2 separate regions of the Homo sapiens genome follow, and region 1 is linked to region 2. A link means that fine-mapping ties the variant in region 2 to the expression of a gene that starts in the linked region. Tissue or cell type: adrenal gland. Region 2 holds a variant in brackets; the other region holds the start of a gene. All regions are shown on one strand. Distances are from middle to middle.

Evidence for each region. PIP is the estimated chance that this variant, and not a neighbour inherited with it, causes the effect.
Region 1: it holds the start of HFM1, and the variant in region 2 is fine-mapped to the expression of HFM1 in adrenal gland (GTEx, PIP above 0.99). The same link has a PIP of 0.9 or more in lung, thyroid and visceral fat.

The regions. Positions count from the first base shown.
Region 1 is chr1:91,400,403-91,408,588 of GRCh38, reverse strand. HFM1 (helicase for meiosis 1) reads left to right here and starts at 3,752. Exons shown (of 39, transcript NM_001017975.6): 1 at 3,752-3,791; 2 at 7,480-7,577. The coding sequence starts at 7,507. RefSeq lists a silencer at 3,778-4,157.
Region 2 is chr1:91,223,223-91,231,408 of GRCh38, reverse strand. No RefSeq gene overlaps it. Among named protein-coding and RNA genes, the nearest start is that of HFM1, 180 kb to the left of the region's middle. The variant G/A (reference allele first, on the strand shown) is at 4,036.

The DNA.
Region 1 (8,186 bases), 180 kb before region 2:
AAAGAAGGGAGGGAGGGAGGGAAGGAAGGAAGGGGAGGAAGGGAGGAAGAGAGAAAAGAGAAAGAAAGAAAGAAAAGAGAAACAAAGAAAAAGAAAGAAAGAACAGAAAGATTTTTTTTTTTTGGTTTGTGCTTAATTCAGTCTTCCTTTTGTTATTTAAGTATCTACTGAATTGGCCCTAACTCCCTAAACTTTTCTTTCCTCCTGAGAATCCCATCATATCAAACTACCTTTATTTCCTTTTTTTCTGTTTTTTTCTCAGAAATTAATTTTGTAATTCTCAGATTCTTCCCAAATGATCTCTTCACTGTTTCTTGTCCAAATCTGACAATAAAAAACACAACACATTTCTGGCTGTCATCTGCAGAAAAATAGTCTTGAAACCTCAACATTTCTTGGTTCCTGCTTCTCTAGAGCCATCAACACTAATTTTTCTTTTTTCTTTCTTGCTTTTTTAGATACAGGATCTTGCTCTATTGCCCAGGTTGGAGTGCAGTAGTGGGATCACAGCTCACTGCAGCCTGGAATTCCTTGGTTCAAGCCATTCTCCTGCCTCAGCCTGCCAAGCAGCTAGGACTACAGGCACACACCACCACACCTGGTTAGTTTTTAAAATTTTGGTAGAGATGAAGTCTCGCTGTGTTGCCCAGCCTGAGACTAATTTTTCAATATCAATTTCTACTGACTAATCAGGGTGTAAAAGATGTGGATGTTACAAAGTGAAGAAAATTTTGGTTATGTTGGATACATCAGCTAGAACTCATGGCATTGGCTGTAATAGCATTACCATATGTCCCAGCAATTCCACTCCTAGGTACATATCCAAAGGAATTGAAAGCAGGGACTTGAACGGAGATATTTACACACGAATGTTCATAGAAGCATTATTCACAATAGCCAAAAGGTGGAAATGTGGAAACAACTCAAATGTCCCTTAGCCAGGATTACAAATGGATAAACAAAATGTGGTATATAAATACAATAGAATATTATTGAGCCTTAAAAAGGAGTAAAATTCTGATCCATGCTACAACATGGATGAACATTGAAAACATTATGCTAAGTGAATAATCCAGAAATAGAAGAACAAATATTGTATGATCCCACTTATATGAAGTACTTAGGATAGGTAAACTCATAGAAATAGAAAGTAGAATAGAGGTTACCAGGAATTAGGGAAAGGGGAAAAGAAGGAGTTCCTGTTTAATGGGCAGAAATTTCTTTTTTTTTTTCTTATACTTTAAGTTTTGGGGTACATGTGCACAACGTGCAGGTTTGTTACATAGATATACATGTGCCATGTCGGTTTGCTGCACCCATCAACTCGTCATTTACATTAAGTATTTCTCCCAATGCTATCCTTCCCCCAGCCCCTCACCCCCCAACGGGCCCCAGTGTGTGAAGTTCCCCTCCCTGAATGGGCACAAATTTCTTGTTGGGGATAATGAAAAAGTTTTGGGTATGGATAAGAGTGATGGTTATACAACACTATGAGTGTATTTAATGTCCCTGAATTATACACTTATATATGGTTAAAATTATAAATATTACGCATGTTTTACCACAATGAAAGAAAGAAAGCGCGCCTTCTAGTGGGAGCTGGGTGCAGAGAGAGCTCTGTATTCTTGGCTGCAGCTGTCTAGAATGGAGCCTGTCTTGCTAAGCTGGAACTTGGGAGTCTTGGATAAAATACCACAGAGCCTTGCCTTTCTTACCAAATTTTTGTATCTCTTTCTTGAAAAGATGTTTCTTCTTTTGCTGTTTGCCCTTAGGATCATTTCCAGAGGGTCTGAGTCATTTTTCTAGAATTTTCACCAGTTTCACTGAGAAGTGAGGTAGCAAAGCTCTTTATGCAGTCATGCCAGAAGTTGACCGGGAAGACTATATTTCAAATGTTAGTTATGTTATTCAATTTGGAGGATTGCTTATGACATTGTTGCACTGGTTGTAAAATTAAATCTTTAGGATTAAAATGTTTTCTTGAGAAATGTGGCAACATTACTAAAAACCATGGTAATCCCTCCCCCCAAAATGGGATTTTTAGTAACTTTATCACTGTCCTGAGGCTTCCTTTTAAAAACTGCAGCTTTGACATTTTTATTACATTATTTTAAGAGAAAGTAAGGCTCTATAGATTCCACATGCATTCTTGAATAAATGAGTGAGTGAATGAATGAATGTTTTTGTTTATGAACATGGTGGCCATTTGCTACTGTGTGCTTTGACAGTAAGACTCCCCTGTACCTGCCTGTTGCTGAATTCTACAATTCTATCACTCAAACCCTATCTTAGTTCAAGCTGCTATAACAAATTACCATAGGCTGGGTGGCTTAAACAACAAACATTTGTCACAATTTTGGTGCCTGAGAAGTCCAAGATCACAGTGCAGGCAGATCCGGTATTTGGCGAGGGCCTCCTTCCTGGCTTGCAGATACCGTCCTCCTGTATCCTCACATGGTAGGAAAAGAGCGAGCTAACTCTCTGGCCTCTTAAAAGGGCACAATCCTACTCATGAAGGCTCTACCCTTTTGAGTTAATTACCTCACAAAAGTCCCACGTTCAAATATCATCACATCGGGGGTTAGAATTCAATGTATGAATTTCAACACATTGAGGGGTTCACTATAACAAATGCACTGTTTCGTTATTTTCCTCTATGCAGTCTATGGAAAGTAACTTTCCTCTCCAGTATTTTTGAGAGGAATGATAATTCAACCTTTCTATTAAGAATAGTTTATGCAGTCAAAATGTTATTTTCTCCAAGAGACAAAGACTTGTTATTTTATCAGTATCCAAATAACTGGCTCACCCAATTACTGGAATAATTTTACATTTCAGAGAAGGTGAAAGAAATTAATATTCATGAGCATTTACTGTGTGGTAGGACTACTGCAAATATTATTTTATTTAACCCTTGCAGCAGTATCTAGGAGTTAGAGCTTATGAGTATCACTGAGGATGCAGAATTAAGACTTAAAGGTTGGGTCTTTTCCAAGGTCATATAGCTAATGAACAGTAGAACTGCAAGAAAAAAGAGAACAGGAATAGGGCAGTCAGACAGCAGTAGGTTGGCCCTAGATGTCACAGGTGGGGGTTTCCAAAGGAAAGATAAATGTCTCTGTAAGAAAAGCATCATTGATTCGTTGCTATTTTATCATCTACAAAACATTCCCTGCCAAATCTTCAGAGGACAATTCTAAAGAAACTTAAAAGGATAATTTATAGTTTGTTCATGTTTACAGCCTAAGAACACATTATTGCCCTGTTTTTATAAATTCATGTTGGCTAAACACATTTAAATATCATTGTGTTTTAGAATATTTATTTCTGAAATTTAACTTTATTTCTGAATCAAGTTCCCCAGTAATACCGACCTCATGAGTGCCACTGTGATATTTTATAAATAATATAGGTAAAACACTTTTTAGGTACGAAGAGACCGGAAGTCCCAGAGCTGAGGCCTGGCTAACTTTGATGAGAAAGGCAGGTTGGGGTATGTTTGTGGAGTGGTGGTTGTGGGGGTAGAGAAGCAGGTTAGCTTAGGGAAAGGGTACCATTTAGTAGACCCTTAGAACCCAGGATTAGGAGCTGTATTTAAAGAGAATAGACACAGTAAACTGCAAGAGATATATTCAAAACCAGTTATAAACTTTCGGAGAAAAAAAGGTAGGAAGGGAGAGGTTGGGGGCTTGGGCGATCCATTGCTTGGAGCTCGGCTTAGCCAGGCTTGGCGGTCCTCAGAGGGGCTGATAAATCGGCGCTCGACTGGCCTAGGAGCTGTCCGCAGGGAGGTGAGGAGAGGGGCCCGGACGCCCGCGGGGAAGGTGGGGACGGGGGCCCGACGCCCGCGGGGAAGTGGGGACCCAGCCGAGCCGTCCGGGCAGCGGTCGATCTCTAGAGCCGTCTGCCGGGCAGGCAGCGGACGGGCGCGGCGAGTTGTTGGTCACCAGGCGTCTCCAGGCCGCCGGCCCGCGCCAGCGCCTCAGCCGCATTTCCAGTCAGAAAGCGGTGAGGCCTGCGGCGCGCTCGGGCGCAGGGCGGGCCCAGCTCCCCGCGAGGTGGGACCGGCTGGGCGTCCGGCCCGCCCCTAAAGTCGGCTGATTGGTGTTCGGTTCCTGTGTCTTGTGTTCCGGTGTGTGGCGCCCCCTGAGCGAGCGCTGGGGGGGACGTACCCATCTGTCTGAGCCGCGGGTTTCACAGCGGTGGGAGGAAACGGGACCCGGGGGGTGGAGTGACGCGCCCCAGCGCCCCGTTCTTGTGCCACTCTCGGGGCCCTAAGGCCTCTGCCTTGGATTTAGGATATTCTCCTTAGGAAATCCACAGAGCTGTTATTTTGCTTTAGGTGCTGATTCGGTCCCCAGCCGGACCCTTCCAGCCAGCCCTGTTGGTGCCTGGGGAGAGGGGGTGAGATCTGGGGCTCCGACAATTGTATGGTCCTTTCCCAGGCCGAGCCTCGGAGTAATTTGTTCCCGTTGATTTTTCCTTCTTTGTCAGATTCTCTGCAGTTATTTGTGACGGTCGGTTATTCCCGTAAATGTTGGTCCCTACTTCTTCCTTAACTCACAAAAATTTCTAGCAAATCAATAATTTTTATCTGAGTTTCTGTACTTTTAAAATAAGGAGTATGTTTCTGAGTAAAAATTGTAAGAAGTAATAGGCCTGCAATTTTATACAATAAGTTTATACAATAATTGTATACAATAATTTTATACAATAAGTAAAGATTACAGAAGACAAAATGGTGAATTGTCATTAATATAACTAAAGATTAATTGTATCTAGTTGTATTAATATTTAACTAGAGATTGTCATTAATATAACTAGAGAAGGTCGGCACCGCAAATTATGTAGACTCAAAAATAGCTTAAGTATTTTAACAGTGATTATAGCAGAGCAGACACTTAAAACTACCTGGGATGATATTGTTTATTGTGTTTGGCAATCTAATTTTGTGCCACGTGCTGAAACTAAAACTTTAATAATAAATAATAGGAACTTAAAAAATCTGAATCTAAACCTAGAACTTTAATTAATTTAAAATAGCATCCCCTCACATCACAAACTCATACTGAACTGTAGCAAGGTCCCTTTTAGGACCTGTGTTTCTTTTTTAAAAAAAGATTTACATAATGAAAGTGCCAAATTCATCATCTTTTAGAACCTTCATGATTTTATTTACATAAATCCTGAACTAGAAAAAAATTTCACATTTTTTAACTGAACGTTGAAGATTGGGGCTCAAATTTTAAGTTTCTAAATTAACAGAAAATTATTTTTATTTGACACTATTTTTATAAACTGGTTCTTGCTAATGCATTTATTCCACAATGCATTCTTATGGACCATTTACTGTGTGCCAGGCACTATTCTGGGTTATTGGAACACATTAATGAGCAAAAAGTCCCTGCTTGCTCTAAAGGGAGAAACATAATAAACAACTAAGCATATACTATAATGTTAGTTATCAGTTCATGCTATGAAGAAAAATAATGCGGAATGAGAGGATGCAGTTTTAGATAAGGGGTGTTTTTTCACAGGAGTATATAAGAACTAAAATATGTACATGATATTTTTATTCTGAACCCAAACAAGTTATATTCTTGTATGCTAGAACTAGAAATCAAAAATTCTTTTGAAAATATTTGCTGTTTGTATAGGAGGTTTTTGTCAGTTTATGCAACGCTTTTCTTCCCAAATGTTTTAAATTTGTAGTTTTGTTGTCTATTTGTAGTTGCTTTAGGAAGAAAGTATTCAAGTGTATAAATGTTAGCCTTAAGATTTTTGACTTAAATTCTGAGGTAGCAAAGCCATATGAAACTGGTCTGGTGAGGTTTATTTTAGGAAAAGTTTCTTTTGTTTGAACATAGTTTTCCTAAAACTAGAAAGGGAACATTTTATTTGTTACTTTTTGGGCAATATAAAAACATGATTAACATTTTCATTTATACTTTTTCAGATAATTGTTTTCAAGTTCTGAAATTGTTTACTTAAAGCTGTTAAAGACTTCGCATATTTCTGAATGACTCCCTCTACCTCCTGCCCTATTATCCTAGGCTTCTATTTTTCGTATAGTCAAATTGTTTTAGACATTTATAGAACCACACTAGTTTGTTTCATTTTTACTACTTGTTTTTGTTGGTAACTGATTAATAGATAGAGAAAAATGAAGAGGGCAATTATATTAAACAGATGGAAGGGGGAAGAACCCAATAACGAAAACAGTGAAAAACCCCACAATATTCTATATCAGTAAGAACAGCCCTGAAGTATATATACAGGTTTAGTTCTCATACAGTAGCATTTGTCAAGTGTTGTATGTGGAAACATTCTCCCTTCCCCATATCACTCCCACTTGTATCTCATCCCCACATCAAGGAGGATTCAAAATTGGAGAGACATAATCTGACTTGGTAATGCGTATTTCTCCACTAGATGGCATTAATAGAATTTCTTTGATTGTAGTTTCTATCTTGAGGACAAATTTACAATGTATTAACTAAAACAGAAGAAACAGAAATGTGATTTATGTTTTACAGTTTGTTCGTCTGATTTTATGGTTTGTCATATAGAATGTTCTATGATGTTTAAGAATTTAGAAAAAAATAGGATATGCAGGGAAAAATAATTCTAATGGGAGCAATGTATGTATCTAGAGACTAGTTTTTTTTTTTAATCACATTTGCATCTTTGTTCAGCCCCAGATTTTTGTTATGTTCAAAGGTGGCCAATGCTGAATGTTTTTATCCTTTATGTTTAGATAATATCTCTGAGTGCAAAAATTATCTTTTAAAAAAGAATGTAAACGTGTGTAGTATATGCATTAACTCATATAAATAAATATGCATATGTATGTTAAACTTGTAATTTTTTTATTTTGAAAAAGTTCAAACCTATGAAAAAATATTATAATGAACCCCATGTACCTATTACATAGCTTTAGCTTTGATCAACTCATTGTCAATATTATTTCAATACTCCTTCATCTCTCCCCTTTATTTTGAAGCAAATCCCTGCATATGTACATAGTATATTGTTAGAGGTGCACACATTCACAATAAAATGTGCTGTCCTAACTTGAAAATAATGGTGTGAACAAAGTATTAAGAGCCCAAGAAGACTGATTAATTCTGCCTTGAGGAAGAAGACAAATTCAGAAAAGCCTTTGAAGAAGAAATGACATTTGACCTATAACTTGAAGGATGGTTAGGAATTTGCCAGTTGGAGAATGGCAGAAAACACATTCCAAGCATTGGAGCACTATGAAGAGAAGGGAGCAAGTGTGAATCCATGAATGAATGGAAAACAGAGAATAATGTATGTGAATATTGAGGTGCTTTGAAGGAAGTTGCAGACGATGAAGCTGGAAGGATAGTCTGTGGTTATATTTTACAGGAGACTGTGGAAAATTAGTGATTATACAGAAATATTTTTTTACATCTTTATAAATAAAATATAAACTACTTTTTCCATATTTTGTAGATTTATGACAAAGTCCAGTTTTCAACAATGCTGAAATCAAATGATTGCCTGTTTTCTTTGGAAAATTTGTTTTTTGAAAAACCAGATGAAGTTGAAAAGTAAGTCTCCCTTAAAGATTGATAGCATAGTATATTACTTTAGGGTTTTTTGAATTTGGGTGAGTTTTAGCTTTCTCTCTGGTAAATATACAAATAAAAATGAGGAATCAACAGAACGATATTTCAGTTACATATTTGGTAAACATGGAATTCTCTTACCAGTAGTATAGGGGAGTAACTGAAGTTTAACATCTTAAATGTTATAATTTTAAAAATAGAATAGATTTGGGCCAGGCGCAGTGGCTCACGCCTGTAATCCCAGCACTTTGGAAGGCTGAGGCGGGTGAATCACCTGAAATCAGGAGTTCAAGACCAGCCTAGCCAACATGGTGAAACCCTGTCTCTACTAAAAGCACAAAAAAATTAGCCAGGCCTGGTGGCGCATGCCTCTAATCCCAGCTACTTGGGAGGCTGAGGCATGAGAATTGCTTGAAGCCCGGAGGCGGAGGTTGCAGTGAGCTAAGGTGGCGCCACTGCACTCCAGCCAGAGCAACAGAGTGAAACTCTATCAAAAGAAAAAAAAAAAAAAAAGATTCTTGCCTATTTGGCTTGCATTTATTTGTATTTCTGGTTTGTTCAGATTATTTTTGGCCAAGCTAAAGATGGGAA
Region 2 (8,186 bases):
AATATCTTGAGGTTCCTGGCCCTATCAAAAAACAACATTTTTCACTTACCACAAGGTCAGGAACCTTGTAAGAGAACCATGTAGACAAGGTATCAGGCCAGTTCTTTAAGTCAACTTTAATTCCTCAAACCCGTCTGGTCATATCTGAAAAGATGTCATTCCAGTCAAAGCCTTGGGAAAATTACCAGTGTCTCCAATATGTCCTGTTACAAAAGAAAACAGATTTTTATTGAACTTATGTAAATTCCCATATTGTTATGAAATAAGAATACTCGCAAATAGTTTCTGAATTCTGGAGGAATCAGGTAGAGAGAAAGGCAAATATTTCCATTTTTGTTCACAAAAGTATACTTTGCTGGGCATTGTGGCTCATGCCCATAAACCCAGCACTTTGGTAGGCTGAAGCAGATGGATCACTTGAAGCCAGGAGTTTGAAATTAGCCTGGCCAACATGGCAAAACCCCATCTCTACTAAAAATATAAAATTAGCTGGGTGTGGTGGCACACACATGTAATCCCAGCTACTACGGAGGGTGAGGCATGAGAATCACTTGAACCCAGGAGCCAGGAGGTGGAGATTGCAGTGAGCTGAGATCGCACCACTGCACTCTAGCCTGAGTGACAGTGTGAGACCCTGTCTTAAAAAAAAAAAAAAGTGTACTTTGCCCAAATTGCTATAAGCTATAAATAGCTCAAACGAAAAAAAGTTTGTGGAAAACAAAACACATTACTACTTCAGGTGGAGCCCTTTAATGATAGGGCAAAGAAAATATTTGCAGTTTCCAGGGCCAAATATTTTAATATGTAAAAAGCAGGCACAATTGGAGGGCAACACATCTAAATCTTTAAAAATCAAGGATCCTTTTATATTGAATCCTGGCTCCCCAAAAAAGAAGGAAACACCATGACACCAGGCCATGACACAGGCTTCCACAGTGTACCTCACTACAAAGACATTCTCCTGGCTGGCAGGTAACCCAATGTCAATCAGCCCACTCTGTGAACAGCCCATCCCCCATAAGAGTTTTATCCCTCAGTGGTGAGTTCATACCTGCACTTTTATTTAAATGCACAAGGACTTTTTTTTTTTTTTTTTTTTTTTGAGATGGAGTCTTGCTCTGTCACCCAGGCTGGAGTGCACTGCGTGATCTCAGCTCACTACAACCTCTGCCTCCGAGGTTCAACTGATTTTCCTGCCTCAGCCTACTGAGTAGCTGGGACTACAGGCATGCACCACCATGCCTGGCTAATTTTTTTGTATTTTTAGTAGAGACAGGGTTTCACCATGTTGGTCAGACTGGTCTTGAACTCCTGACCTCGAATGATCCACCTGCCTCAGCCTCCCAAAGTGCTGGGATTACAAGTGTGAGCCATTGCACCTGGGCTCCAAGGATTTTTATAGGTTTCAGTTTTACATTGAAGTCTTTAATCCATCTTGAGTTAATTTTTATATAAGGTGTAAGGAAGGGGTCTGGTTTCCATTTTCTGCATATGGCTAACCAGTTTTCCCATCACCATTTATTAAATAGGGAATCCTTTCCCCATTGCTTGTTTTTGTCAGGTTTGATAAGGATCAGATGGTTGCAGAGGTGTGGTCTTATTTCTGAGATCTCTATTCTGTTCCACTGGTCTGTGTGTCTGTTTTTGTACCAGTACCATGCGGTGTTTTGGTTATTGTAGACTTGTAGTATAGTTTGAAGTCAGGCAGCATTATACCTCCAGCTTTGTTCTTTTTGCTTAGAATTGTCTTGGCTATATGGTCTCTTTTTTGGTTCCATATGAATTTTAAATTAGTTTTTTCTAAATCTGCGAACAATGTCAATAGTTGTTTAATGGAAATAGCATTGAATCTATAAGGGCAGACATAGTGGCTCACACCTGTAATCCCAGCACTTTGGGAGGCTGAGGTGGGCGGATCACCTGAGGTCGGGAGTTCAAAACCAGCCTGACCAACATGGTGAAACCCTGTCTCTACTAAAAATACAAAATTAGCTGGGCATGGTGGCACATGCCTGTAATTCCAGCTACTCGGGAGGCTGAGGCAGGAGAATTGCTTGAACCTGGGAGGCAGAGATTGCAGTGAGCCAAGATTGCACCATTACACTCCAGCCTGGGCAACAACAGTGAAATTCCGTCTCAAAAAAAAAAAAACAAAAAAAAAGCATTGAATCTATACATTATTTTGGGCAGTATGGCCATCTAGGCAATACCATTTAGGACATAGGCACTGGCAAAGATTTCATGATGAAAACATCAAAAGCAATTGTAACAAAAGCAAAAATTGACAAATGGAATTGAATTAAACTAAAGAACTCTGCACAGCAAAAGATACTATCATCAGAGTGAACAGACAACCTAGAGAATGGGAGAAAATTTTTGCAATCTATCCATCTGACAAAGATCTAATATCCAGAATCTACCAGGAACTGAAACAAATTTACAAGAAAAATAAAAACCTGATTAAAAAGTGGGCAAAGGACATGAACAGACACTTCTCAAAAGAAGACATACATGTGGCCAACAAACATAAAAAAAGCTCAACATCACTGATCATTAGAGAAATACAAATCAAAACCACAATGAGATACTATCTCATGCCAGTCAGAATGGTGGTTATTAAAAAATCAAGAAGCAACAGATGCTGGTGAGGTTGTGGAGAAATAGGAACGCTTTTACACTGTTGGTGGGAATGTAAATTAGTTCAACCATTGTGGAAGACTGTGGTGATTCCTCAAAGACCTAGAGGCAGAAATACCATTTGACTCAGCAACCCCATTACTGGGTATATACCCAAAGGAATATAAATCATTCTATTATAAAGATACCTGCACACATATGTTCATTGCATCACTATTCACAACAGCAAAGACATGGAATCAACCCAGAGACCTATCAGTGACAGACTGGATAAAGATAATGTGGTAATGTGGTACATATACACCAGGAAATACTATGCCACCATAAAAGGGAATGAGATAATGTCCCTTGCAGGGACATGGATGGAGCTGGAAGCCATTATCCTCAGCAAATTAACACACGAACAGAAAACCAAACACCGCATGTTCTCGTTGATAATTGGGGCTGAACAATGAGAGCACATGGACACACTGTGGTCTGTTGGGAGTGGGTGAAGGGAGGGAGAGCATCAGGATAAATACCTAATGCACACGGGGCTTAATATGTAGGTGATTGCTTGATGGGTGCAGCAAACTAAAACCGCCTTTGCAAAAGTATAACTGAGGAAATCATGACAGTGAAAGAAATCAGACCTAACTAACTCCATCTTGCTTCTAACCTTTAAGCTGTCCTTGTTCATTCCTTGGCATAGGCCAAACTAACTTTGAGAAGGAATTCAGCTCATGGTTTGACTCTGAAACAAAATTAATAACAGCTCTTTCCTGAAAAACACCCCTTCTTGCCTAGAAACCAGTCTGCCTTTGCAGAACTAGCAAATTAGCTACAAGATTAGAAATTACAGTTTAGGGGTCGTGCAGCCTCTGGCTCCAAGAGTCTGAACCTCCCCAAATTGCTCCTGGGGATAACATCACTATTGCAAAACCTAAACTCAGTGCTTGAGATATTTTACAGACCCTGTACTTGATGGATCAGCTGATACCACACAGACTGGTGATCTGGCTCAACCAGTTATGCCATCTCACCCAGGAACAGAAGACAGCAAGAAAAACTCACTTGGAACCCTTATGATTCCATCTCCAACCTGACCAATCAGCACTCCCCACTTCCCAAGCCCCTACCCACCAAATCTCTGATCCCTGAATGCTCAGGTAGAGTGATTTGATTAATAATAAAACTGTGGGGCCAGGCGCGTGGCTCACGTCTGTAATCCCAGCATTTTGGGGGGCCAAGAAGGGTGAATCACCTGAGATCAGAAGTTCGAGACCAGCCTGGCCAACATGATGAAACCTCATCTCTACTAAAAATATAAAAAATGTTAGCCAGGAGTGGTGGTGCACGCCTGTAATCCCAGCTACTCTTGGGAGGCTGAGGCAGGAGAATTGCTTGAACCCGGGAGGC[G/A]GAGGTTGCAGTGAGCCGAGATCGCCCCATTGCACTCCAGCCTGGGCTACAAGAGTGAAACTCCGTCTCAAAAAAACAAAAACAAAAAACAAAAATCAAACCAAGCCAAAAAAATACTCCAGTCTCCCGCTCAGCGAGCTCTGCGTGAATTACTCTTTCTCCATTGCAATTCCCCTGTCTTGGTAAATTGGTTCAGTCTAGGCAGAGGGCAAGGTGAACCACTTGGGCGGTTACATAACCACTATGGCACACATTTACCTTTGTAACAAACCTGCACATCCTGCACATATATCCCGGAATTTAAAATTAAAATTTAAAAAAGACTAAATAATAAATGCACAAGGAAATGAGTATTCCCTTGTGGTAACTACCATTCATTGCAACTGTAACTGCCTAATGGGTTCACATTGGGCTGGCTGCCTAGAAAGAACCAGTTTATTAAGTCTGGGGAATTGTAATGGTGAAAGAGTAATTGACACAGAGCCGGGTGTGCGGGGTGACCGGAGTCTTATTATTACTCAAATCAGTCCCCTGGAACATTCGGAGATCAGAGTTTTTAAGGGTAATTTGGAGGGTATGAGCTTAGAAAGTGGGGAGTGCTGATTGGTCGGTTGAAGATAAAATCACGGGGGGTAGAAGTGAGTCCTTGATGACTTCCATTCCCGGGTGGGATCACAAAATTGGTTGAGCCAGATAATCAGTCTGGATGATGTCATCTGCTGCATCAGAATGTAGGGCCTGCAAAATATCTCAAGCACTGATCTTAGGTTTTACAACAGTGATGTTATTCCCAGGAGCAATTTGGGGAGGTTCAGACTCTTGCAGCCAGAGGCTGCATGGCCCCTAAACTGTGATATCTAATTTTGTAGCAAATTTGTTAGTCTTACAAAGACAGACTGGTCCCCAGGCAAGAAGGGTTTTTTTGGGAAAGAGCTATTAATCCATTTTGTTTCAGAGTTTAAACTATAAACTAAATTCCTTCGCAAGGCTAGTTCGGCCTACACCCAGGAATGAACAAAGGCAGTTTAGAGGTTAGAAGGAAGATGGGGTCAGTCAGGTCTGATCTCTTTCATGAAATAATTTCCTCAATTATGATTTTTGCAAAGACGATTTCACATCCATAGTCAGCCACCTCCCAGACTGTAGCTCTCACCAGTGATCCACCAGTCATCATACATACCAAAGCGTATTGTCTCATAGTCTCACCAGTAATCCCTGGTACCCCTAAAAATGAAAGAGATCGGGTAATTGATGTAAAAGACAGTAGAGTTTAGACTTGAGAGGAACGTGTCCATGACTCTTCAGATTCCACAGGAAGGCAGAATACCTTAAAAAGGGGATGAGTGGTGACTCTTTCTGTGTCCCTTAAGGGGTCTGAGTCATTAGAGGTTCGCTCAGATTTGTTTTCTTTTCTTTTTTTTTTTTTAGATGGAGTTTTGCTCTTGTTGCTCAGGCTGGAGTGCAATGGCTCAATCTCAGCTCACTGCAACCTCTGCCTCCTGAGTTCAAGTGATTCTCCTGCCTCAGCCTTTCGAGTAGCCGGGATTACAAGTGCACGCCACCATGCCCAGCTAATTTTTGTATTTTTAGTAGAGATGGGGTTTCATCATGTTGGTCAGGCTGGTCTTGAACTTCTGACCTCAAGTGATCCACCCGCCTCAGCCTCCCAAAGTGCTGGGATTACAGGTGTGAGCCACCATGCCAGGCCTAGATTTCTTCATGTAGCACTGAAGACAGCAAAGAGGAAGGAGGATCTTGAATATCAGCTTTTAACTAAGCTGACCTCTGACCATAGAATAGCTTTTTAAAAATCCTTTTAAATATCTTATTATCAGATTTTAGCCAGGATAAACAGCTGAAATTCCTGGGTTTTGAACTTTTTTTTTTTTTTAACCGAAGGTACCCTCCCAAGTGACTCACTAAACCAATAAGCCTTAAATAAGGTTATACCTTCACCAAGGACACATGAGGCATCTCCAAAGAGGTGCAAAGCAGTCTTTATAAAATCCAGAACCACCCCAGAAATGGTTCAAAGAAAGGAAGGTTTTGCTAGCCACAAAAGGGGGACAGCCCACATTGATCTGGCCATATCTTTCAGGGTCTCAGCTTCTCAGTTGACCATTGATACACAAGGCCCAAAACCTCTGTTTGACCCCACAGATGGAAGAAGACAGGAAATCAAAAGTTGTTCATAGAAGGCGAAGGGATCGATAACAAATGGGTGTTCCAAAAGGTCAAAAGTCACATAAATATCAAACCAAAGGAACTGATTTCCTGACTGGGAATTGAACCAGGCCATGGCAGTGAAAGCACAGAATTTTAACTACCAGACTACACGGTGGAACAGCTCCAAAGCAGGCTGTTTGAAATTATGAAGGGCTTTAGCTTTGTTTTAGGTCAGATTCTGGCTCTTCAATTTTGCCGAATTTCTGAGGCTGGCCACAACACTATTATTTATCTTTAAAAAAAAACATTTTTTGATCTCCCATAAATACAAATAAGGCAATTGCTTGGAATGAGAGATATCTTTTTAAAATTTAGGAGTCATTCTAATTTAAAGGATCCATCTTTTGGCCACCAATGATTAGACTTTCCAGTGGTGTACTCAATCCAATAGCAACTCAGTCCAATTATCATAGCAAAAATTATACCAGAGTCCCTACAACCAAGACTAGTCACACAAATCCTTTTCTCTCATTAATCAACATTTTGCAGAGGAAACAGAAGCAAACAGTGATTTTGGATGGTAACGTCCACTCAATCTATTAACAATGGAGGGTGTCCAGTTTCTTGGTGTCTTGAACAAAGAATTGGACAAAATGCACAAACAAAGCAAGGTGGGAATGAAAGGATTTATTGAAAATGAAAGTATACTCCACAGTGTGGGAGCAGGCCTGAGCATAGGGGCTCAAAGACCCCATTACAGAGATTTGGGGGATGTAAATACCCCCTAGAGGATTCCATTGGTTACTTGGGGTATGGCTTATGTAAATGGAGAGGATGAAGTAAAGTTATAAAGTCATTTACTTGGCCTACGTCCTATGGAGAGGATATTTCCTGTCATAGCTAAAGTGTGAATCGGCCTTATGTTCCCGGCCTCCAGACCCCATTTTTCTTGCCTCATCTTCCCCCTGAGAGATATGATCCCTGTAAATATTTATGGGAGGCAGAGGGACCAACGGTCTTTTTTTCTGTAACTGCTTCATGCTGGCTTGGGGCATAGTCCCTAAGTATTGTGGATCATGGATCTCTTGCCTTGCTCAGTCTGGTGGAGGCAGGGTAGGTGCTCCCTGACAGTCAGGGGTGGTGTCTTCACCTTGAACTGGCTGGAACCTTTGTTGCATGATCATCTGAAGCTTGATGGTCTCTAGGTGAGAAGAAATGAATTTGGTTAAAAAATTTAATGGGAACTTCACGGAGTGGATACCTATGCTGTCAGAAATGTTTGTTATAGAGATTTGCAGGAGAAAAAACAAAGCTTCATCTGTTCTAGAATCTATGTGTTTCTTTAACGTCTTAGCATGAGCAACTCCATTTTGGTTTGGCTTGGTTTGTTGGGGCCTAGTGCATGAGCTTAGCCCAAAACAATAGACTCCCATAATTTTGTTTAAAAAAATTTCCCCTTTTTTGTCATGCTCTCACTTAGGTGAGAGTGTAATCAAAACTTAGGGCCTTAGCACCACTCTCAGTTACCAACATTTTGAGTTTCCGGTCTCAGCACGTCATTTATAGGTGTCCTCATGGTTGCACATTTCTTTCAGCTCCTGTTATTCCAGTTGAAGAGAGACCATATGACATTCTAGAGATGGCTGCATGCAAGCATTTAAAACCTTTGAGAGAATACAGTGCACCAGGAAGACTATTATTATGACTATTGGGAGGATAATACCAAGAGTTTGGGATATGCTCCTTACCCAAGGTCCCCATAAATTGAACCTCCTAAAATCAAATTGATCAAAGAATGAGCTAGATAAAGTTTACTCACTTAACTAAGTAATTTCTTTGTCTATCCCTTACCACTGAATTTCTATAATCTTCATTTGATGTATTTCTGAATAGGCCACAAGTGCCAGCAGCTACACAGGTACTTTTCTGTTTAGCTAATTCTATTGTTTAGCATAACTTTCACAAGACAATTTAAAGTCTGTTGT